7 linked regions of the Homo sapiens genome follow. The protein of the gene in region 1 purifies or fractionates together with the protein of each later gene. This does not show direct contact. Each region holds a gene or a part of one and is shown on either strand. Other genes may lie near its edges. The genes, in order: IVD, ALDH9A1, TRABD2B, ACAA2, ALDH1L1, STARD7 and TXNRD2.

Region 1 (3,007 bases):
AAGCTGCTGGAAGGTAATAAGCATTGGAGTAAATGGTGCCTTGGGAGCCATGCCTTTCGGAGGCAGTGATGGCCACTTCGGGGTGTCATGCGGGCTGTGGAACAGCCACTCTGTGGCCCTAACTCCCACACCTGCCCCCATCTCCATCATCCTGAGTAAATCCCATCTCCTCTCCATGCCCCTGCTTCCTCATCCTTGGCTGTCTTGTTGCCATTGCTGACCTGCTTTTGGTAACTGAGAGAGTGTTCCAGCATGTTGACCTGTGACATCCCTTTGTGCCCAGTTGATGCAGGGGAAGATGGCTGACATGTACACCCGCCTCATGGCGTGTCGGCAGTATGTCTACAATGTCGCCAAGGCCTGCGATGAGGGCCATTGCACTGCTAAGGTGAGGGCCAGCCTCAGTCGGGGAGAGGCGGGGGCAGTGGACCAGCTGCTGAGACTTGCTGTCTGCGTGCCTCGCAGGGCCCTGCTGACCCCAGCTTCCTCCCGTAGGACTGTGCAGGTGTGATTCTTTACTCAGCTGAGTGTGCCACACAGGTAGCCCTGGACGGCATTCAGTGTTTTGGTGAGTGATCCCCACTTCCCAGTCCCGGGGCTCCCTCACTCCTGGGGCCTGTGGCTGCTTCAGAAAGCAGTTTCAGGGCGGGCGTGGTGGCTCACACCTATAATCCCAGCACTTTGGGAGGCCGAGGTAGGCAGATCACCTGAGGTCAGGAGTTCAAGACCAGCCTGGCCAACATGGTGAAACCGCATGCCGGGCATGATGGTGCATGCCTGTAATCCCAGCTACTTGGGAGGCTGAGGCAGGAGAATCGCTTGAACCCGGGAGGCAGAGGTTGCAGTGAACAAAGATTGCACCATTGCACTCCAGCCTAGGTGACAGAGCGAGAGGCTGTCTCAAAAAAAAGCAATTTCCTCTCCACTTCTCCACTCCTCACTATGTGCTTATGCTAGGCCCAGCTGAGCTGGGACCTTCGGGCTCTTTCTGTCCCAGTTACAAGGAGGAAATGGAAAGCAAATGAGAAAACTGCTAGATGCCAGGAGTTGCTGCTGCCTTCGGCAACACCCCCCTCTCATCCTCCCCGCCTCATAGATGCTAGGAAATGGGAAAGGGAGATGTGGCTGGGCACAGTGGCTCACACCTGTAATTCCAACACTTTAGGAGACTGAGGCCAGTGAATCACCTGAGATCAGGAGTTTGAGACCAGCCTGGCCAACATGGTGAAACCCTGTTTCTACTAAAAATACAAAAAAAAATTAGCCAAGTGTGGTGGCAGGAGCCTGTAATCCCAGCTATTTGGAAGGCTGAGGCTGGAGAATCTCTTGAACCCAGGAGGCGGAGGTTGCAGTGACCGGAGATCGCGCCATTGCACTCCAGCCTGAGTGACAAGAGTGAAACTCCGTCTCGGAAAAAAAAAAAAAAAAAAAGGCCGGGCACGGTGGCTCACACCTGTAATCCCAGCACTTTGGGAGGCCGAGGCAGGTGGATCACCTGAGGTCAGGAGTTCGAGACCAGCCTGACCAACGTGGTGAAACCCCATCTCTACTAAAAATACAAAAATTAGCTGGGTGCAGTGGTGCGCGCCTGTAATCCCAGCTACTCAGGAGGCTGAGGCAGGAGAATCACTTGAACCTTGGATGCGGAGGTTGCAGAGAGCCAATATCATGCCACTGCACTCCAGCCTAGGCCACAGAGCATGACTCCAAAAAAAAAAAAAAAAAAGCTAAATGGAAATTTCTAGAAATAGTTCATAAGTTTCAAATCCACACCATCCTGAATAGCTTGAAGTGTTGTGCCATGCTGCTCTGTCATGTTTGGTACGTGAATCGTCCCTTTGTGCAGCCTATCTATGCTATGTGGGCTACCTGCCCGTTAGTAGTCACCTAGGGTATCCAATCAGCTGTCCTGATATCAGAGTGCCTGTGTTCAAGTAACTCTTATTTTGCTCAGTGGCCCCAGATTGCAAGAGTAGTGATGCTGGCATGTCATAATAGTTCTATTTTAGTATTTGTTATTATTGTTGATCTGTTACTATGCCTAGCTCATAAATTAAACTTTCTCATAAGTATGTATGTATAGGGAAAAAAACAACATATATATGGGGTTCGGTACTATCTACGGTTTCAGGCATCCACTGGGGTCTTGGAATGTATCCTCCAAGGATAAGGAAGGACTAGTGTATTCCCCACACCCCTCCCTCTTGCTACCTTTTGCTGCTTTTCTTTAATCACCCTCTCCTCCTGTGGCCTGTTTCTATATACTTGGCATTCTGTTTGCTTTCTTTGTTTTGTCAATCACTTCCTTTCTTCTCTGCCCAAACCCTGGTTGCAGGTGGCAATGGCTACATCAATGACTTTCCCATGGGCCGCTTTCTTCGAGATGCCAAGCTGTATGAGATAGGGGCTGGGACCAGCGAGGTGAGGCGGCTGGTCATCGGCAGAGCCTTCAATGCAGACTTTCACTAGTCCTGAGACCCTTCGCCCCCTTTTCCTGCACCTAGTGGCCTTTCTTGGGAAGTAGAGATGTGGCGGCTTTCCCACCCTGCCCACAGCAGGCCCTCCTGCCCAGCTGCTCTTGTCAGCCCTCTGGCCTCTGGATGAGGTTGAGTTCTCCACAACAGCTCCCAAGCATCATGGGCCTCGCAGCCGGGCCTGTGCCACGGCTAGTGTTGTGTGATTTAAAATGGACTCAGCAGGAAGCATATTGTCTGGGGATTGTTGGGACAGGTTTTGGTGACTCTGTGCCCTTGCTCTCTAACTTCTGAGCCCACCTCCCAGGGTAGGCACCTGGGGGCATGCAGGTGCCCACCTCCCAGGGTAGGCACCTGGGGGCATGCAGGTACCCACCTCTTTCTCTTGGGTGAGGCTCTGGCAAGGAGATCTCTCTGCTCAAGCACAGCAGAATCATGGCCCCTCTCCATGAATTGGAACTTGGTACAGGTTAAGTATCCCTAATCCTGAAATCTGAAACACTTGTGGTTCCAAGCATTTTGGATAAGGCAAA
Region 2 (3,500 bases), on another chromosome or scaffold:
GATCGCGCCACTGCACTCCAGCCTGGGTGACAGAGCAAGACTCCATCTCAAGAAAAAAAAAAAAAAAAAAAAAAAGACTACTACTAAGAGAATATTGATAGATAATATTTTATTTAAATATGTGGCAACAATTTGAGTTAAAACTGATGTTTCCGCTCTTTATAGGCCGAGTGATAGCTACTTTCACATGTTCAGGAGAAAAGGAAGTAAATTTGGCTGTTCAAAATGCAAAGGCTGCTTTTAAAATATGGAGTCAAAAATCTGGCATGGAGCGTTGCCGAATCCTTTTGGAGGCTGCCAGGATAATAAGGGTATGTTCCAATTTATTTCCTTCCAGAACTCAGACATTGCTCTGAGGTTTCTTTGTGATGTTTGCAGTTCGACTTTGTTGCAACATTAGGCCGTAACGTTTTTATAAAATGGAAAAACATTTCCACATGCTCACCTTAGTATATAAAACAAGTTTTTGTTCAATACTTCCCATCTGGATGTTGGCTCTTGGACATCTCCTTTGGCAGGTTTTCATGTTTGTAAAGCTTTGTTTTGAATTATAATGCACTCTTTATAGCTCATCGTCCTTTTTTTATTTTTATTTTTTTTTTTTTTTGAGACGGAATCTTGCTCTGTCGCCCAGGCTGGAGTGCAGTGGAGTGATCTCGGCTCACTGCAACCTTCGCCTCCCGGGCTCAAGCAATTCTCCTGCCTCAGCTTCCCAAGTAGCTGGGACTACAGGTGTGTGCCACCATGCCTGGCTAATTTTTGTATTTTTCGTAGAGATGGATTTCACCATGTTGGCCAGGCTGGTCTTGAACTCCTGACCTCAAGTGATCCACCCACATCGGCCTCACAAAATGCTGGGATTACAGGCGTGAGCCACTGTGCCCAGCCTTTCTTTCTTTTTAAACCATGTGGTTTACTTGTTTCCTTTTTATTCTTTATTTTGATGATTCTCAAGTCTACCTTTCTTTTTCAGATTTGTTTTCAGATAGGGTTTTAAGTATCGTTACTTTAATTGGGAAGATTTCATAGATTTGTAGATGTTCCCTTTAAAAAAAAGAGAGTTAAACTTTTTTTTTACATCATAAATATATACAATTTTTATTTGTCAACTAAAAAAAATTGTAAAAACAAGTATTTAATACTCATCGCAAAACATAAAAAGCCTGCAATGCAAAGGGTTTCTGTGGTGTAGTAGTTACCACGCTGGCCTAACACACGGAAGGTCCTCTGTTTGAAACTTGACGGAAACAAAAGGTTTCTTTTGTTTCCCAGAATCTGACCAGGCTGCCTCTTCCTGGGAGTCCAGAGCTGCGAGGAACAAGTGATAATCCTGCCTCCTTTTTTTTTTTTTTTTATACTTAAGTTCTAGGGTACATGTACACAATGTGCAGGTTTGATACATAGGTATACAAGTGCCATGTTGGTTTGCTGCACCCATCAACTCACCATTTACATTAGGTATTTCTCCTAATGCTATCCCTCCCCCAGCCCCCCACCCCCTACGGCCCCGGTGTGTGATGTTCCCCACCCTGTGTCCAAGTGATCTCATTGTTCAATTCCCACCTATGAATGAGAACATGCAGTGTTTGGTTTTCTGTCCTTGTGATAGTTTGCTCAGAATGATGGTTTCCAGCTTCATCCATGTCCCTGCAAAGGACATGAACTCATCCTTTTTAATGGCTGCATAGTATTCCATGGTATATATGTGCCACATTTTCTTAATCCAGTCTATCATTGATGGGCATTTGGGTTGGTTCCAAGTCTTTGCTCTTGTGAATAGTGCTGCAATAAACATACGTGTGCATGTGTCTTTATAGTAGCATGATTTATAATCCTTTGAGTATATACCCAGTAATGGGATGGCTGGGTCAAATGGTATTTCTAGTTCTAGATATTTGAGGAATCGCCACACTGTCTTCCACAATGGTTGAACTAGTTTACAGTCCCACCAACAGTGTAAAAGTGTTCCTATTTCTCCACATCATCTCCAGCACCTGTTGTTTCCTGACTTTTTAATGATTGCCATTCTAACTGGTGTGAGATGGTATCTCATTGTGGGTTTGATTTGCATTTCTCTGATGGCCAGTGATGATGAGCATTTTTTCATGTGTCTTTTGGCTGCATAAATGTCTTTTTTTGAGAAGTGTCTGTTCATATCCTTTGCCCACTTGTTGATGGGGTTGTTTGTTTTTTCTTGTAAATTTGTTTAAGTTCATTGTAGATTCTGGATATTAACCCTCTGTCAGATGGGTAGATTACAAAAATTTTCTCCCATTCTGTAGGTTGCCTGTTCACTCTGATGGTAGTTTCTTTTGCTGTGCAGAAGCTCTTTAGTTTACTTAGATCCCATTTGTCTATTTTGGCTTTTGTTGCCATTGCTTTTGGTGTTTTAGTCATGAAGTCCTTGCCCATGCCTGTGTCCTGAATGGTATTGCCTAGGTTTTCTTCTAGGGTTTTTATGGTTTTAGGTCTAACATTTAAGTCTTTAATCCATCTTGAATTAATTTTTGTATAAGGTGTAAGGAAGGGATCCAGTTTCAGCTTTCTACATATGGCTAGCCAGTTTTCCCAGCACCATTTATTAAATAGGGAATCCTTTCCTCATTTCTTGTTTTTCTCAGGTTTGTCAAAGATCAGATGGTTGTAGATGTGTGGTATTATTTCTGAGGGCTCCGTTCTGTTCCATTGTTCTATATCTCTGTTTTGGTACCAGTACCATGCTGTTTTGGTTACTGTAGCCTTGTAGTATAGTTTGAAGTCAGGTAGCATGATGCCTCCAGCTGTGTTCTTTTGGCTTAGGATTGTCTTGGCAATGCAGGCTCTTTTTTGGTTCCATATGAACTTTAAAATAGTTTTTTCCAATTCTGTGAAGAAAGTCATTGGTAGCTTGATGGGGATGGCATTAAATCTATAAATTACCTTGGGCAGTATGGCCATTTTTGCGATATTGATTCTTCCTATCCATGAGCATGGAATGTTCTTTCATTTGTTTGTGTCCTCTTTTATTTCATTGAGCAGTGGTTTGTAGTTCTCCTTGAAGAGGTCCTTCACATCCCTTGTAAGTTGGATTCCTGGGTATTTTATTCTCTTTGAAGCAATTGTGAATGGGAGTTCACTCATGATTTGGCTCTGTGTTTGTCTGTTATTGGTGTATAGGAATGCTTGTGATTTTTGCACATTGATTTTGTATCTTGAGACTTTGCTGAAGTAGCTTATCACCTTAAGGAGATTTTGGGCTGAGACAATGGGGTTTTCTAAATATACAATCATGTCATCTGCAAACAGGGACAATTTGACTTCCTCCTAATTGAATACACTTTATTTTTTTCTCCTGCCTGATTGCCTTGGCCAGAACTTCCAACACTATGTTGAATAGGAGTGGTGAGAGAGGGCATTCATGTCTTGTGCCAGTTTTCAAAGGGAATGCTTCCAGTTTTTGCCCATTCAGTATGATATTGGCTGTGGGTTTGTCATAAATAGCTCTTATTATTTTGAGATAT
Region 3 (3,500 bases), on another chromosome or scaffold:
ATCTGAGTCAAACTGACAAGGCTGCTCTTCCTACCTGAACCGTTTGGGCCCAGCACGCATTAGTTTATACTGGGGGCCAGGGGCAAGCATGTGTTTGAGGGTTGGGGATTCCAAGGTAGCCTCAGGGACAAAGCCTTCTTCAAGTTTCCCTCCTCTCCCCTCACCCCAGCCCTCACCCCAGCAGCCCCAAGGACCTTCCCCTTGAAGCTCATTGTGTCTGTTCTGGCCAGGGCAGGGGAGGCAGGCAGGCCAGTGAGGCTAGCGAGCCTCCTATTCATCTCAGAGCCCAGGCATTAGGGGAGGGGGCCCTCCACAGCTCCCCCATGGGCTCTGCTCCAAGGACTCTCAGCCTTAGCCTCCTGCACGGGGGAGCAAGGGAGTTGGCAGGGCGGAGGGGGGCGGGAATGCTGAGGAGGCTCCAACAATAAAAGCCATCATCGGCCACAGGTGCTTCCTGGATCTAGCTTTTTGTCTGACTGTTTTGAATTATCTCCCCAGCAGCTGCGGCATCTCCAGGCAGCCTGAATCCTGAGAATCTGGGGTTGCCATGGGGGTAGGGGAGGAGAGGCTGAGCTGATGGCCTTCTTTCCTTCAAAGAGAGAAGCTCCTCACCCATCGTGCCGTGTGAGAGTGGGCTGGGAAGACGGCCTGCCTGCTGTCTTGGGTACTGTCTAACCTTGCAAGCTGCCCACTCAGCCACAATTCCTGAAACCATTCCCAACCTTCTCCCAGGATCACATGTCCCTAAAACAAATTCTATTGTGGCCATGGAGAGGAAAGAATAAAAGGGAGAAAAACAGAGGGTGCCCTTGGGCTAAGCGGTGCACGTGTATGCCCCTGTATAAAACATGAATTCCACAATGTGACAAATGACACTTTAGCGCCTGCCTGACAGCCAGGTCTATTTGCTTGTCGGCCAACATCCAAGAGAGGCTTATGTGCCAGGCACTGTGTTAAGACCTCATCTCATTCATCCTCATGACAACCCCATGAAGTAGGTAGTATTATTATTCTTGTGCTATAGCTCATTGCTGCTTGATATGATTAAGTAACTTGCCCTTCATCACACGGCTTGCAAGTTGTGGAGCCGGGCTGTGGACCCACATCAGTCTACCTCCAGCTCTGACTACTTAACACTGTCTTTGCTCCACTGAAAAGGTGCACAGGAAATGTGTATTGAATGTATGAATGGAAGGTTGGATGAATGCACAATGCTAATAATCTTAATTACTTAAATGTTTTGGCTGCTTACTATTTGCCAGACACTGTTCTCGGTGCTTTGCCGGTGTTCACCTTCATAATCCTGATGAAGTACCCTGTGAGATAGAGTCTGCAACACCCCCATTTCACAGCGTAGGAGACTGAGGCACAGTGAGGTTAAACTCACCTAAAGTCTCAGCCAGAGTTGTTGAATAAATGAGACCCTGACCAAGCTCAGATACGCCCCAGAGACGTACCCAGGGCTCGCTCCCTCACGTCTTCCTAGCCTGGGCTCAAATGTCACCTGCTGGTGACCAGACCACCTTCCCTGAGTAGCACCCTTCACCCCCACTCTCACACCTGTCTCTGTTTCATTTGCTCCTCGGCAGTTAGCAGCGTCTGGCATCCTCTGTTTTACTCTCTGTCTGCTGCTTTGGAATGTAAGCTCTCAGAGATCAGAGGCATTGTCTGTTTCCATCATGCTGATACCTACCTCCTAAAAAAGTGCCTGGGACAGGGTTGGTGCTCAGTAAATATCCGTCGACTAAACAAATGAAGGCATGACTCAAAGCACTGGCTTTCAGCACCAGACGAGGTTTTCCTGGGCTGCTGTCACCGGGCCCAGCAGGGGCACCCTGGCACTTTCTCCTGCCATGACAAACTCCCACTGAATTGGACTGTATTCCCACCACACATGGATGACATTCTCCAACACATGTGCCCCATGTGCCATTACCTCTTTCCAGCCCTGCCCCCCAGAGCCCAGCGCCCTCTCCTGAGGGGACCTCGACGAGCCCGGCCCCAGTGACCCCAGCTGCCGCTGTCCCCGAAGCACCCTCTGTGACCCCCACCGCCCCACCAGAGGATGAGGATCCAGCCCTGTCCCCACACCTCCTGCTCCCCGACAGCCTCAGCCAGCTGGAGGAGTTTGGCCGGCAGAGGAAGTGGCACAAGAGGCAGAGCACACACCAGCGGCCGCGGCAGTTCAATGACCTCTGGGTCCGCATCGAGGACAGGTGAGCCAGGGAGGGCAGGTCTGCCCAGGAGCTGGGCGTCTGCACCCGGGATAGTATACCCTGAACCCCCCACAGCTGGGCACACTGTCGTCAGGCCAGCCCTGCTCTAAGGAAGTGTGGCAGGTGGCTTTCTACAGCACGTTCCCATCTGATTTTTCAGTTTTATTCTCAAAACAAAAGCAATTCAACAACAAGTACAATTCTCTGCACCTTAAAGGTGAGGAAATAGAAGCTTTCTTCAGGCACAGCGCACAAATCTGCTTTGCACTCAGCTTTCCTGGGACACACCTGTACAAACAGGGCGCCATTTGTCCCATGGACTGGAGGTGAAACTAGGAGAAAATGGAACAAGCTGGCTAAGCCAAAAGGCATGAGCTCCCTGTGCCTAGAAGCTGTGAGTAGCCGACACCCTGGCAGGGAGGCTGCAAAGGGAACCGTGCTCTAAGAGAGAGATGGGATAGATGGTGATCAATGCCCTTGAAGCTGTGGGCTCTGTCTTAGGAGTGGATGGGGGATTTGTGATATATCTTGTTGAAAATGGACAGATAGGAGAAATCATCCTAATGCACGGAGACCCTTCTGTCCTCTTCCTATATGCCCCTCCTGCCACCTCTACCACCCACCTCAGCTTGTCTGTCACCAAAGTCCTGCTGTGACCAGGATGCTGTCTTCCAACCTCTGCCTGCAATCTCAGTACACAGGAGTTTCCCCAGATTCCACTTTTTGGCAGGAGTCTCCATATTTAGTGAACAGTGTTGCTAGAGCACAAGGAATGTCCCAGGGAGGGACTGTCAGTGATGGGGTAGAATCCTACCCACTGCACTGGCCCAGCTCTGAATATGCCATGCTTAGCAGTCATAGAGTCTCCATCTCAGAGTCTCTATCAGGGGGAGCCTTAGACTCTCCATCTGGACCCTAGAGATCGCCATCCAGGATTTTCCCCCGAAACCCTAGAGAGAATCACCTTGGCTATTCGTTAAATAAACAGATTCTCAGGCCCCACCGCAGACCTCATGTATCAGAATGTGTAGGACAAGGGCCTGGGACTCTGTATGTTGCGTGTACACCTGGAGATTCTTCTGAGCAGCTGTGGGAAGCCCTGACTACACTGTGCATTATAGATGGTGAACCAAGGCCTGAGTCGGAGAGGGTTTGACCAGGGTCCCCACAAGGAATCAAGGGCTGCCTCTTGCACTTTGCACTTCATGAATCTCCTACAGCCAGGTCTCAGAGCCAATGCCAAAATGTTGCCATGGTCCAGCCCATTATCATAAACTGTGGGGT
Region 4 (3,500 bases), on another chromosome or scaffold:
GTAAACTTGAAGTAAGGTAATTGCCAGTTTGTGTAAGTATAACATAATATACTTTTCAGTTCTGCCACATTTCAACATAGTAACTGTTCCCTTTATGTACGTGGCTTTGAAGGTTTATTCTTTGTTGTGTGTCAGCTTCTTGGAAGGATAGCTCCTAGTACTGCATAATAATAATAATACTTGCAACCACTTATTGAGTACTTGCCATGTTTCAGGTAACACACTGGACACTTAATACTCATGATTTTATCTAACTGTGACAGTGACTCTTAGCATGATACCACAGTCACATTTTCACACGCGGAAACGTGAATTTAAAGAGTTTAAAGAATATGCATAAGGTCACACCCTAACAAATGGTATAGCCAATATTTGAACCATCCATCCAGTTCTAAAACCTGTGGGCTTTCTACAGTATCCCACTGTGTCTGGTATGTGTCAATTTATGGGATTACTGAGAATTGCCTCTAAGGGATGCATTTGACTAAAAGTATTATTTAGTAAATATACACATTTTAAACCTGATAGCTTTATGCAGAATGATTGTAGATAAAATAACTTTGCGAGGTAATTTAAATAGGAAGAAACAGCAGACTTAGCTGTTGATAGGACTGGACCATTCTCATTTAAAAATTAGTTTGTGAGTAAGGATTTTTGTTAGTGCTCTAATTTTTGTTTTAAGGTGAATGAAGCTTTTGCTCCCCAGTACTTGGCTGTTGAGAGGAGTTTGGATCTTGACATAAGTAAAACCAATGTGAATGGAGGAGCCATTGCTTTGGGTCACCCACTGGGAGGATCTGGATCAAGAATTACTGCACACCTGGTTCACGAATTAAGGTATTTGCTAGAAATAGCTGCATTTCAGATTTGCTGTTTTTTATAGAAATGCATGGATTTAGGCTTCCCCAGAACACTCCAACATTTTTCATTCTTCTTCATGTCTCCTGCACTGGCTGTTACCAGGAACAAGTTACTTGGGCAGTGCTTTTCATCTGGTCTCATAGATGAGTCAGTCACCTTGTTAGTGGCTTTGCACTTAAGAACCAAGCTCTTCCTCTGTGTGTCCAGTCTCTGTGCACTGTGTGCCCCACTCAGCTTGTGTTCACTGCATGAGCAGATAATGAGGCCCTGCTTCTCATGGCACTTGTATTTTAGTGCCAGTTACAGGAGTAAAATAAATCTATTTTAGAAAAAAAAAGTACTGAGTGAGTACTGATCTAGATGCCATAATTTATGAAATCTAAGCAAACTGACATTTGGGTCTAAGTTTTTCTTTTCACTGCTTGCAGGGTTCCAGGAGGAACCTTTTGGGTGTTTGGTGCTTTTCAGTTTTGATAGATAGTACCAGAAGGAGGAGCTCTTCTATTTTTGGAATATTTTGCTCTGTAGAAAAATTGCAAACAAAACCAAGTAAGTCAGGCTGAAAAATTACTCTGACTCCCTGTTAGGCCAGGGGAAATGTGACTCTTATTTCACTTAATGATTCCCTGAGTTGAAATAGGTGATTGCCACATACAAAAGTAATTCCTGGATAATTTTCTCGAAGTCATCATATTAGGAGTGAGGAGTACTTTAAAAGAGTCTAATTTTTATGAAAGGGACATGGATAGTTTCTAAATTATCTGCCCTTTCATAGGGACAAACTTTATTAATTACATTTCTTCTAAGGTGCCATGAGGCTCTCACACTATATAAATCAAATATATAAATCAAAGGAGCTTAATGTTCATCCCCTTCCCCAGCTTCCCATTTATCCAGTTACCTCCTCTTCTCACTCCTTTCCCGTAACACACACAAGCTTCTGTATGTGTTTCATATACCCTAAATCTACTCTATAACCCTAAATCCACTCATCTCCTTTTTAGTTTGCCTCCCTCTTCTGGTGTTTGTTTTTGTTCTTTGTTTTTTGTTTTTTTTGATTAAAAACTTTCAGCTTTCCAAAGTCTGTTGCCTGTTGTAATTATACCAAAATTGAGGACTGGGGAAAAGATTGAGCAGATGAGCTGAATAAGGATGAGTAATGCAGATGTGATGTTATTAGTTCTATTTCATTAATCTGATTTTTTATTAGAGTAGATTTCAGTCACTGCTTTCTTTTTCAGGCGTCGAGGTGGAAAATATGCCGTTGGATCAGCTTGCATTGGAGGTGGCCAAGGTATTGCTGTCATCATTCAGAGCACAGCCTGAAGAGACCAGTGAGCTCACTGTGACCCATCCTTACTCTACTTGGCCAGGCCACAGTAAAACAAGTGACCTTCAGAGCAGCTGCCACAACTGGCCATGCCCTGCCATTGAAACAGTGATTAAGTTTGATCAAGCCATGGTGACACAAAAATGCATTGATCATGAATAGGAGCCCATGCTAGAAGTACATTCTCTCAGATTTGAACCAGTGAAATATGATGTATTTCTGAGCTAAAACTCAACTATAGAAGACATTAAAAGAAATCGTATTCTTGCCAAGTAACCACCACTTCTGCCTTAGATAATATGATTATAAGGAAATCAAATAAATGTTGCCTTAACTTCAGTTAATATTTTCCTGTCATTTATATTTTTAAAAATTTTAAATTGTGATAAGATACACATTACATAAACTTTACCATCTTAACCCTTTTTTAGCGTACAATTCACTGGTATTAAGTACATTCACATTTTTATACAAACATCCCCACTTTTTATCAACAGAACTTTTTCAGTCACCACACATGGAAACAATAACTCCTGATTCTCCCATCCCCCATCCCCTGACAACCACCAGTGTATTTTGTTTCTATAAATTTGATGACTCGAGGTACCTCATAAGTGAAATTATAAATATCTGTCCTTTCGTGACTGGCTTATTTTACTTTACTTTATATAATGTTCTCAAGATTCATCCACCTTATGGTGTAGCATGTGTCAGAATTTCCTTCTTTTTAAAGGCTGAATAATATTCTGCTGTGTGTATAAACCTTACTTCCTTCTTCCCAGCTTAAAGGCCATCTTTCATCCTTTATTTTCTCCCTTTAAAATGCCCCCACAACACTTCCATTGCTTTATTTGTCTGTTCTAAGACTGGATATCTAGTAGGGCAAGGCCCTATTCTTGTTAACTTCATCAAAGAGCCACTGGAAATTTTAATTAAGATTAAATTGAATTTATGGGTTATACATTTATTGGGGGGAAATTTTTTTTTTTTTTTTTGAGACAGAGTCTCGCTCTGTCCTCCAGGCTGGAGTGCAGTGGCGCGATCTCAGCTTACTGCAAGCTCCGCCTCCTGGGTTCATGCCATTCTCCTGCCTCAGCCTCCCCAGTAGCTGGGACTACAGGCGCCTGCCACTACGCCCGGCTAATTTTTTGTATTTTTAGTAGAGATGGGGTTTCACCGTGTTAGCCAGGATGGTCTCGATCTCCTGACCTCGTGATCCACCCGCCTCGGCCTCCCAAAGAAGTGCTGGGATTACAGGCGTGAGCCACTGCACCCGGCCTTTTTTTTTTTTTTTTGAGATAGCATCTTG
Region 5 (3,500 bases), on another chromosome or scaffold:
CATATGTGAGGGCTGCTTGCCCCTGCCCGAGGACAGGCTGGCAGGGACGGCCACAGGCAGAGGTGCTGTCCAGGCATGCAGCAGGAGGGAAGGAGGCCCTGGGGAGCCCTTGCTGTTTGGGCGCAGCAGGAAGAGCAGCTGCAGTGTCCACTGTCCCCTCGTCCTCCTCAGCTCCTGGCCACTGCCTTTTATTTTTCGGTTGTGTTAAACTTGTCTTCCCCACAGATTGACCAGCTCACAAAAATAGTGAACAAAGTAGAGTTGCTGGAGATTTAGTGGTACAGAGAGGGAGCTTACCTGTGCTTCCCACGGCAAGCAACTCAAATACTCCTTGAAGCTGCACTGTCCAACAAGGCAGCCACTGGTAACATGCAGCTATTAAATCAATTAAAATGAATTATACTGAAAAATTCAGTTCCTCAGTCTCAGCCACATTCTAAGTCCCCTGGCCACCGTGTTGGACCGTGCAGACTTGGAACTCATCCATCACCACAGAGGGCTCCATTGGGCAGCCCTGCCTCAGATGCTCTGACACCCGGTCACTTCCCATTCTTGGCACCTCCCGGTCTCTTCCCTCAGGCTCTTGCTCACGTGGGCCCAGACTCCTTGGCTCTCCTTCTCCCTCTCTGATTCCTTTCCCACCACCTTCCTCTTTCCTGTCACAGAGAAACAACTTCCTGCTTCATCTCAGACCTCCAAACTTCCACCTTCAAGCCCACCACGGGGCTCAGGACCCACTCTCTTTAAAGGCAGAGAAGGCTTAGACAGCAACATGGACATTTGTGTCTGTGTTATACCTGCAGGGCTTTACAGTTTATATAATCATCTAAGATATCAGAAGATGTAAGATCTATGTAATCTAAACCTTTGCCAGGTAGAGAGGACGGGTCTGTGTCCGTTGTGCAATAGAAGTTAGGTTCACGCTGACTCCCTTGTTCATATGGCAGGTGTTTCTTGGGTGACTGCTGTGTACCAGGCAAGTCTGGTCAGTCTGGGGAAGGGTCCAGGCTCAATGTGGGCCCTGGGGCTGGGAAGGAGGCAGGGTCCTATTGCTGGGGATAGCAACCCACTGGATCTCCCCAGGTGCAGGCCGTGAGGCTGATCGCTGAGGGCAAAGCCCCCAGACTCCCTCAGCCTGAGGAAGGAGCCACCTATGAGGGGATTCAGAAGAAGGAGACAGCCAAGGTGAGTGCTGGGTCCCTCCACACCCTCATCCTGCCTGTGAGCAGACTGGGGTTGTAGAGGGCAGCCTGAGGAGGCTGGGGTTCAGCCCAGATGGTGCAGGTTGTAATTCTTTGAGGCCAGAACACAGGGCAGCCCAGGTCAGGGATGCATGAAGAGAGCCGTGGAGGAGGAGGACCCTGGCACCTGGGAGGGTAGCGAACAGGGTCCATTCCAGGTTCTTTCCTGTTCCTCTTTAGGAGGAATGGGCAGACAAAGCCCACAGGGAGATAAGAGTGGGAGTTAGGGGGCAAAACGTCAGCCGTAGTGCGAGCAGTCTTCAAGGCAAGGTGTGAGGGACAGTGCGGGTCTCTGGAGCAATAGCCAGTGGAGGAGCCTCAGAAGCCTGTAGGCTGTGTCTCAGCTCAGGAGTATGGGTTGCTGTGTGGGGACCCACAGGGGCCCTGCCAGTGAAAGGTTGGGCCCTATGGGACGGGCCTGAGTACATTGTGCTGGGGCCTCTGTGTAGGGTCTGGGCCATCTTGACAGCAACAGAACATTATCTTCCCCAAACCATTCTGAAGTCTGCTCAGCCCATGAGAGACTGAGGGTCAGAGAGCACCCAGAACTAGGGGCACCAGCTCAGGGACTCCTGCAAGTGTCTAAGAGGAAGCTGGGGTTACCAGCTGTCTCACAAGAGCTTGGTCCACTGTCCAGATGTCATCAGGGTGGGAGGGGAGTGAGGAGAGACCAGCTGAGCACACACACCTTGCTCCCCACAGATCAACTGGGACCAGCCGGCAGAGGCCATTCACAACTGGATCCGCGGGAACGACAAGGTGCCGGGAGCCTGGACAGAGGCCTGTGAACAGGTGTGTCCCTGCATGGCTGGAATCCAGCCACGTGCATTGGTGTATCCCACTGGCCATTAAACTGTCACACATGTTTGAACTGGTTGGTATAATAAATAGCTACTGCCCTGGCCCCTACTCCCACTGGGTGCCCCCTAAACATCCCAGCCTTTCCCCAGGAGTGAGAGACCTACCCAGCCTGCAGTAGCTAAAGGATAGATGTCCTGCGTAGCTGGAGGCCTCCAGGCCCTTGTAGTGCCCCTGGGGCCCAGCTGTATTGGTGGTGAAATATTTTGAGTCTCACCACTGGGCTTGCGGAGACCCCAGGCCCAGTACTCACTCTGACTTGGCCTCAGGCAGGGTGGAGCAGCACATTCAGGGCCAGGCTGACCGTGGGCAGGCCAGATGCTGAAGATGGGGAGACTTGGGGGTCACAGGCTCTAGTGAGGCATCAGGGGTGGCGGGACTGTGTGTGGTGGACTTTGTGCAAACCTTGAGGGCAGTCTTGTCCCCCACACAGTCTCAGACTCTCCAGACCCCTGACCCCCAGCCGACTGCCCAGACTGTGGCCAGAAGCCTCTCTGCTGTCCTCATCAACGCAGAGCCCTTTGTACTAGCAAATGCATCTTCTGATCAAAGCAACCACTCCTTGGCAGCACCCTGAAGGCAGGTAGCCTCATTCCGTGATGCCTGGAGCACATTCTCCCCCAGTCTGTGCACCTCAGGTCTGAGGCCATGGGCCAAGGAGAAGGGTCTTATGGCAGAGTTGAGGCAGACCTGCCATCAGCTCCCTGAGGCCACTGAGGCTCCTCCAGGTCTTGTTTGTGCCCCAGGAGAAAGGGCCTCAGGGGTCACATGGGCTTTGAGCCGGCTCCCAGGTCTCAGCTACCCCTGGCCCCTCTCCCTCTCCCAGCCCTGCTCAGACCTGCCTGGGCTACTGGCTTCGGGGGCTTCTTCTCACCCACCATCTTCTGATATTTCTCCCCTTGACAGAAACTGACATTTTTCAACTCAACGCTGAACACTTCAGGCCTGGTGCCCGAGGGAGACGCTTTGCCCATCCCAGGAGCCCATCGGCCAGGGGTGGTCACCAAAGCAGGACTCATCCTCTTTGGGAATGATGACAAAATGGTAAGGGCACGGCTGTGGGTCACTTGCCTGCTCAAAGCCACCCATGCTCCTGTCCTTGGACTCAGGCCTCACAGGAAGACCCTAGGCTCCTCTGGAGAAAATGGAAAAAACCAGACCCAGGAAGGAACACTGACCCTGATTTGTCCCTGACCACCCGGCTGGTCCTGAGCACAGGGTGTCCGAGGCAGTTTACCCACTTCTCTGTTCTGGGAAAGCTGGGCTCCCTACCCTTCCTGGCTAGGCACCCATCTCCAGGCTGAGTGCCCTGTGTGGGTGTCAGGCAACCTAGAATCAGAGAGAAGCCCTCCCAGGGAGCCTGGGTTCAGGGCCTCTCTTTGGTCTATCAGAAACACCTCT
Region 6 (3,500 bases), on another chromosome or scaffold:
GGCTATCTTTTGGGTTCCATAGTTGCACAGGTGCATGGGATTTCTGTTCTTCATACTTCTCTAAACTGTTCTGGTTGTTTCTCAGAAAATTTGCCGTAGTTTTTTGTTTATTGTTTTTCTTCTCCCAGATGACAAATGTCTCAGTGTTGTCTTTGCTTACATCCTCTTTGTCTTTCTTTGTTGCTCTACTAAGACTTCTAGTTTCTGAACCTGCCTTTAAGATCTCTTAGTACTTTAGATCTGAAACGCCGCTAGGTGAAAGAAACAAGGCGAGTGACTGGAGTATGGCCAGCATCCCTTATTCTTTCTTTTCATTCTAGTTTTTGGAACCTACACAGATGTGACACCTCGGCAGTTCTTCAATGTTCAGGTGAGTTAATTTTTCTCTCCAGATTTGGAGCCTCCTAGCATATCAATTGCTACTGTCTACATGAATCATTTATCTGACTCAGGTGACATTGGCTTAAGTACATCCATCTATCTACCTGTCATCCACATTGCATAGCATTTAGGTAAACATTTGACTTAGAATTTCTTTATCTGTCCCATGGGGATGAGATCAGTTTTACCCTCCCACAGGACTGTTGGGAATATCAGATAGAGGAATGGATATGAATACTTTAATGTATTTTATGAGGCTTTATTGTTTTTTTCCCCAAACAACTTAAGAGTAAGTTACATACATCATAGTCCTTTACTCCTAAATTCTTCCAGTGTGTATTTCCTAAAACTAGCCATATGCCGTATTTCTTAACTAATCATGATACCATTATTGAAATTAGTAAATTTAACACTGATGGAACACTTTCATGTAGTCCTCTGTTTGTATTTATCAGTTTTATCAGTTGACTCAATGTCCTTTATAGCATTTTCCACTTCAGTACAGATAGGATTATATTTAGTTGTCACATCTGTTTAACCTCAAATCAAGAACATTTCCATAGTGGAGGGTTTTTTTTTTTCTTTCCTCTCCCTGAGACAGGGTCCTGCTGTGTTACCCAGGCTGGAGTACAGTGGTGTGATCATGTCTTGCTGCAGCCTTTGTTTCCTGGACTCAAGTGATCCTCCCACCTCAGCTTCCAGGCCTACAGGCATGCGCCACCACACTTGGCTAATTAAAATTTTTTTTTCTTAGAGACAGGGTCTCCCTATGTCTCCTAGGCTGGTCTTGAACTCCCTGGGCTCTAGTGATCCTCCTGCCTTTGCCTCCCAAAGTGCCGGGATTACAGGTGTGAGTCACTGTGTTGGCCCAATGTTTATTTCATAAAGATGAAGAGTATCTGTTCAAAGACTGCTTTCCTCCTTGTAGGGGAAGATGGTTTAAAAAATGAAACAGGGAGGTGGGATCGCCCAGAGTTCTAGAACAAAATTTTTTTCTTTCTGGATTTTTCATTTGTTTTGCTGACTTCCGATAACTACTTCGTTGGTTATAACACTCACTCTAACGTGCAAGTGCACTTTCCCTGAGGTACTGGATCTTGTTAATTTGTAGTGAATTTTTGTTGGTTTTATGTATATGGTATATCTGTCTTAAGTTGAAAATCTTCAGTTACTAGTGATGCCAGAAATTTAAAAAAATATGCTGCTTGCATTTTTGTGTGTGAAGTGTCTACTTAATACTTTTGGACTTTTTGTTGTTTAAAACTTTTTAGAATTGTCTTACCCTTACACATTCATATCACTATATATTATTTTCCCCAGATGTGTCTATTAAAATATTTTGTTACACTTTTCCTTGGTTTGTCTAATGAAGATTCACATTCAGTGTAATGACATTAGCCTGTATAAGGTGATTTTGAAAGAAACATCTGTAGTAAACACAGCCATGTCTCTCACACTCTGGCACTGTCTGTTAGGTCAGATTACTCTCTCCTTGTAATAAGATTCTTGGATCAGAGACCAAAGCATCTGGAAAGCTTTCTGCATTTTTGTTTTGGGTCTTCTTGGGTATTCATGGTCTTTTCTCTTTCTGCAGCTGGACACAGAGTATAGAAAAAAATGGGATGCCCTGGTAATCAAGCTGGAGGTGATTGAGAGGGATGTGGTTAGTGGTTCCGAGGTTCTTCACTGGGTAACCCATTTTCCTGTGAGTATTTTTACTTCTGATTTTATTTCTGTCCAGGTTTGTGTGATGCAGAACACTAATCCTGCTCCTCCATTTCTTTAGTATCCAATGTACTCACGGGATTATGTTTATGTTCGGCGGTATAGTGTGGATCAGGAAAACAACATGATGGTGTTGGTGTCGCGGTATGTATGGCTGCCTGTGGCTGTTGCCGAGTTCCTTTAGCTGTGGCCTTCATTCCTACGTACCTGAGTTTGTATATTCTTAGTGTCCTATGAGTCTCCCACAGGCTTCCCTGCAGCCAGTGCCCCTTCCATCCAGCTAGAAGATGAGGGACTCTGACTGTCTAGAAAGAATGGAGAGATACAAGCTTTTAGTTAAACTGTTTTTTTGGGTTCTTTAATGTTGGTAATCAAAAGAAGTGCTGTTGTTTTTGACCCACAGCCTAGTGAGCCGTAAATTACCAAAGGAACTCACTTCATTTTTAATTAATTCATTTGTTTGTTGTAGACGCAGGGTTTCACAGTGTGGTCCAGGCTGGTCTTGGACTCCTGGCCTCAAGTGATCTTCCTTCCTTGGCTTCCCAGTGTTGGGATTACAGGCATGAGCCACCACGTCTGGCCTTCGCTTCATTTTTAGAACTTAGTTTGTATTTATTCATCTTAGTGACTCCTTTGTTTTGTGTATTTAAAAATATCAGAGCCAGCTTTTTAGGCCTTCCCCTTAACTTAGCTCTCCTGTTGTTTTATATATAGACATTACTAAGAGTTTGCTTCTCCTTTCCTCCTTACCAGTGCTGTGGAGCATCCGAGTGTGCCAGAGTCTCCAGAATTCGTCAGGGTCAGATCATATGAATCCCAAATGGTTATCCGTCCCCACAAGTCATTTGATGAGGTGAGTTTTACCTCATCCAAGAGATAACATGTCATGGCTGTGGAATTTTCTCAAGGGATGTCTTACCTGAACTAGGGAGGAGGGGGTGTGGCGCAGGAACAGTTCTCGCTCGGGGGAGTCTGATGCTACTGGTCTGGGAACCATTTTTTGGGAACTCCTGACGTAGGTGATGTACCTGGAAGTTCCCCAAGGACAAAGTAGTGGCAATCCATTGGTTCCCTCTTATCTGAGAGATAGTTAAAAGAATCATAGCCACTGACGCATTAGCCTGTATCAGTAGCATTCTTCAGGAACTAGAGCGAGTACCTCCTGTCAACATTTTACTACAGTGGGCAGAGCACTGGATGGAAACTTTTCTGGATTTCTGCTTCCTTGCCAGAGTAATGGGAAGATTGGACTCATGCTGTCTGCCTTCTTTAAAATTCTGTGACCTTTCTTTGAAAAGAATATTTATTTCAGCCTAATGAGGTGTTTTGTGTTTATTTTTTATCTTTTTAAGCTAAATCTCCACTGAGAGTATAGATATTGATGCTAGTGGCTG
Region 7 (3,500 bases), on another chromosome or scaffold:
AATAGTGCCGCTGTGAACATCTGCAAAGAAGTTTTTTGGTGGACTTCAGTTTTCACTTCTCTTGGGTTACACTTAGGAGCAGAACTGCTGGGTCATGTGGTAACTTTATGTTGAATCTTTCAAGGAACGTTTCAAGGAACCTCAGACTGTTTTCCACAATGACTGTGTTTTACATTCCTTCCAGTGGGGTGTAAGGGTCATGGTTTCTTGTTTCTTCACGTATCTTGTAATTTTTTTATTGAAAGCTGAACATTTCAAATAATTTAATGCGATAACTTTGGAAACCAGATTCTCCCTCTGCCCCAGGATTCTGTTGTTACAGCTGCTTATTTGGTGACTTTTCGGAACTGACTTTGTAGACTCTTATTCTTTGATGTATGTGGCCACTGAAGTCTTTACTTGGTTAGCTTAGTGGTCAGCTAAGAACTGCATGGAGATTTCCCTAAACTAAGAACTCTCCCGGTCTTTGCTGAGGGCTCTGTGTGCGTTTGGAGGGGATGCCTTCCACACTCAACAGGCAGCAGACAGCTCTGCCCTAGCCTTCACTTCCTGCTTCTGCAGAGATCAAGGTCAGCTGGAGGTGAGGGTTCAGGGCCTCGTTGGTCCTTCCTGATGTGTGCACAGTGCTGTGCATGCGCCTGGCCTAGGTTCCCAGGAATATGCTGGAACCTTTCAAAGCTCCAGCAGACATCTCATACTTTGGCTTTTCCTTTGAAGCTTTTTGGGCAGTCTGTTGTTGGCTCTAACTGTTACCTATCCCCTCAGGCAGCTGTGAGAAGAAAACCTCAGACAAATGCCCCCAGAGAAAGGCTTTTAGCCCTGGCTGAGCTCCGGTGAAGTTGGATGAAGATGACCCTATAGTTGCTGACTCTGACTCTTCTTTGTGGGGGGGCTTTGAAAGACCCCAGCTGAGTTCTGCTCTCTCTGACACATCACTGTTCAGGGCTGCCGCTGAGGTGGGAGTGGGACCAGAGTGAGTTAAAACACCCTGGAGTTCCCATTCTCACTCAGCTTCAGCTGTTTTTCCTGACTTTAAATGTTCCCTGTGTTGCTGCAAGCCTGTGGTTAATTTCCATAATTCTGAATCTCCCAGTTCTTGCCAGTTTTATCGCTGTTTTTAACAGAGAGGTGAATAACTCCTGGCCCAGTCTTGTGGGTTGTGGGGGCAGAGTTGAGGAAGGGGCCCCGGGGTGAGGGGTTGGGGGGCAGCTGCAGCAGGGAAAGCAAATGGGCTGGGGGTGAGCAGAGAGGTTTGGCTGAGACCAGTCCCCACGGGTCTCCCAGGGAACCGTGTGCCGCCTGCTCCAAGCCTCTAAGTAGGCTGCAGCCAAGCTCTTGAAGACCACGGCTCTCTCGGCCTGGAGGCCACACCACCTCTGACTTAGACCCAGGGGCAGTCCGGTGGAGGCAGAGCAAGGGGAGGTTCTGCCACTTCTTGGATGTGACCCCAGCCTCCACTTCGTCCTGTGCTTACTGTGGAAACAGGGAAAGGAGCGGCCCCGAGGAGCACAAGCACCCCCAGTCCTTAGAGGCCGTGGGACTTGTCTGGCCGCCAGGCAGCCACAGCAGCCTCTAGAGGGGGCAGGTTGCTTATGCACAGAGGTGGGGCTCAGGGCTGCGTGACTTTGTAGGATGACACTGTGCAGTTGTTCAAGGCAGCTGCTGCAGACAGGGTCCCAGTGATCCCCTCTCCTGGCAGCTGGGCTCATGGTGGTTCTGCTTAAAGAAGGCCACAGCCAGCTTCCAGCAGCCCAGCGGTCATTGGGTTTCTCTGAGGCCCCAGGCAGAGCTGCACGTGCATCCGCACCAGGGAGCACTGCACAGGGGCCCTGGCCTGGCCCGGCCCTGCTCTGCACCTCACGGGCAGCTGCTGACGGCTCTTTGGGCTCACAGGGGATCCAGCAGGCGCTCCTGGTCCTTAGGAGGCAGGCAGCTCAGGGCTGCTTCGCTCTCCCTGCCACGCCCTCCCAGGGTGTCTGCCAAGGCTTGCTTGCGTTTTAGTCCCTTTGATTGCCAGACCTTTCGGTTTTCCTTGAGTAAACCTGAGAAATTCCTGACTTTATTTTTTTTTGCCAGTTGGAAGCATAAACTGTTTGAGATCCGCTTCCTCCACCAGCACATCTTGTTCTCATGGCCGCTAAGGGGACGTTCACCCTGGGCCTCCCACCTGCTTGGCCGCCCCTCTTCAGGTGACCTGTATGATTTCTGGGCTCAGAGCCCACCCGGGCCAGCCCTCGAGAGTGTGAAGTCCGTCCTGGCTTCAGCCAGGTGCCCTCAGAGCTGCCCCTCAGTCCCTGCCCACCTCAGCCTGTGGCACTTACCCCCTGTGCCTCCTCTCCTCTGGCTGGCCTTGTAGGCCACCCCTGCCGCGCAGACACACCTGAGCTCTGCTGGCCCTGATTTGCTGACCTGTTCTCTCCCCACTTCCTCTCTCTGAGTTTGGATCCCCCAGAACCCAGGTGTTGCTCCCTGGGGCTGCATGCCCCTGTCTGTTTGATGTGTCTGTCCAGAACCCGGGCAGACTTGAGGGGTCCCAGCTGTCTGCCTGTATGGCCCCTGCAGTTGCTGTACCCACCTCAGGCCCTGTATCCTGCTCTGAACCAGGGTCAAGGGGAGGGTCCTGGGGAACAGAGGGGAAAGGTACCCTGCGAGGGCACCGGGACCTGGAGTGCAGCAGCTTAGATGCAGACAGGCCACCTGCAGCCCCAAAGAGGCCACAGCCTGCAGACAAGGACTGGCAGCAGGGAAGCCCTGTGCATGTGTGCCCTGGGAAAGCTCTGCTTGATTCTGCAAAGCTGGCATCCTCTTTAAGGAAGCCCTAGGACAGGCCAAATGGAGCTCTTGTCCAAGGGGTCATTTCTGTCTTGACAGATCGAAGGTGCCTTGGAATATGGAATCACAAGTGATGACATCTTCTGGCTGAAGGAATCCCCTGGAAAAACGTAAGGCCTGCGCGTGCTTGGTGGGGTCCTCTTTTTGTTCACCAGAGTGAGCACTGGACCCTTAGAGCCTGTGCTGGTGCTGGGCTCCTGGGGCTTTCTTTCCGGTTTACCCAAAAGAAGGAAAAAAGGCCTGTTATTTGTGGCCAGGTGTGGTGGCTCATGCTTGTTAGCCTAGCACTTTGGGAGACTGAGCGGGAGGATTGCTTGAGGCCAGGAGTTCGAGATCAGCATCAGCCTGGGCAATATAGTGAGACCTCTACTCTACAAAAATCTGTTTTGGTTTTTTTTTTGGCTTTTTTTTTTAGGTGAATTCTCACTCTGTCCCCCAAACTGAATTGCAATGGCCCAATCTTGGCTCACTGCAATCCCTGCCTCCCAGGTTCAAGTGATTCTCCTGCTTCAGCCTCCAAAGTAGCTGAAATTACAGGCGCCCACCACCACATCTGGCTAATTTTTGTATTTTTAGTAGAAATGGGGTTTCACCATCTTGGTCAGGCTGGTCTTGAACTCCTGACCTCAGGTGATCCGCCCACCTCGTCCTCCTAAAGTGCTGGGATT

What was found.
Region 2: the proteins of IVD (region 1) and ALDH9A1 fractionate together in Homo sapiens (co-fractionation; one large-scale study listed by BioGRID). This does not show direct contact.
Region 3: the proteins of IVD (region 1) and TRABD2B fractionate together in Homo sapiens (co-fractionation; one large-scale study listed by BioGRID). This does not show direct contact.
Region 4: the proteins of IVD (region 1) and ACAA2 fractionate together in Homo sapiens (co-fractionation; one large-scale study listed by BioGRID). This does not show direct contact.
Region 5: the proteins of IVD (region 1) and ALDH1L1 purify together in Homo sapiens (co-immunoprecipitation; one large-scale study listed by IntAct). This does not show direct contact.
Region 6: the proteins of IVD (region 1) and STARD7 purify together in Homo sapiens (co-immunoprecipitation; one large-scale study listed by IntAct). This does not show direct contact.
Region 7: the proteins of IVD (region 1) and TXNRD2 fractionate together in Homo sapiens (co-fractionation; one large-scale study listed by BioGRID). This does not show direct contact.

What each region holds. Positions count from the first base shown.
Region 1 is NC_000015.10:40,415,795-40,418,801, forward strand, and holds part of IVD (isovaleryl-CoA dehydrogenase, mitochondrial isoform 1 precursor), read left to right. Parts: intron 1-283; coding exon 284-388; intron 389-495; coding exon 496-568; intron 569-2,335; coding exon 2,336-2,469; 3' UTR 2,470-3,007.
Region 2 is NC_000001.11:165,692,063-165,695,562, reverse strand, and holds part of ALDH9A1 (4-trimethylaminobutyraldehyde dehydrogenase isoform 1 precursor), read left to right. Parts: intron 1-165; coding exon 166-311; intron 312-3,500. UniProt on the Homo sapiens protein: Converts gamma-trimethylaminobutyraldehyde into gamma-butyrobetaine with high efficiency (in vitro). Can catalyze the irreversible oxidation of a broad range of aldehydes to the corresponding acids in an NAD-dependent reaction, but with low efficiency.
Region 3 is NC_000001.11:47,773,886-47,777,385, reverse strand, and holds part of TRABD2B (metalloprotease TIKI2 precursor), read left to right. Parts: exon of another isoform or gene 1-463; intron 464-1,946; coding exon 1,947-2,216; intron 2,217-2,376; coding exon of another isoform or gene 2,377-2,431; exon of another isoform or gene 2,432-3,500.
Region 4 is NC_000018.10:49,782,534-49,786,033, reverse strand, and holds part of ACAA2 (3-ketoacyl-CoA thiolase, mitochondrial), read left to right. Parts: intron 1-682; coding exon 683-837; intron 838-2,102; coding exon 2,103-2,187; 3' UTR 2,188-3,500. UniProt on the Homo sapiens protein: In the production of energy from fats, this is one of the enzymes that catalyzes the last step of the mitochondrial beta-oxidation pathway, an aerobic process breaking down fatty acids into acetyl-CoA.
Region 5 is NC_000003.12:126,153,087-126,156,586, reverse strand, and holds part of ALDH1L1 (cytosolic 10-formyltetrahydrofolate dehydrogenase), read left to right. Parts: intron 1-1,083; coding exon 1,084-1,185; intron 1,186-1,943; coding exon 1,944-2,033; intron 2,034-3,005; coding exon 3,006-3,143; intron 3,144-3,500. UniProt on the Homo sapiens protein: Cytosolic 10-formyltetrahydrofolate dehydrogenase that catalyzes the NADP(+)-dependent conversion of 10-formyltetrahydrofolate to tetrahydrofolate and carbon dioxide.
Region 6 is NC_000002.12:96,191,828-96,195,327, reverse strand, and holds part of STARD7 (stAR-related lipid transfer protein 7, mitochondrial isoform 1 precursor), read left to right. Parts: intron 1-320; coding exon 321-370; intron 371-1,975; coding exon 1,976-2,086; intron 2,087-2,167; coding exon 2,168-2,250; intron 2,251-2,859; coding exon 2,860-2,959; intron 2,960-3,500. UniProt on the Homo sapiens protein: May play a protective role in mucosal tissues by preventing exaggerated allergic responses.
Region 7 is NC_000022.11:19,910,819-19,914,318, reverse strand, and holds part of TXNRD2 (thioredoxin reductase 2, mitochondrial isoform 5 precursor), read left to right. Parts: intron 1-2,871; coding exon 2,872-2,942; intron 2,943-3,500. UniProt on the Homo sapiens protein: Involved in the control of reactive oxygen species levels and the regulation of mitochondrial redox homeostasis. Maintains thioredoxin in a reduced state. May play a role in redox-regulated cell signaling.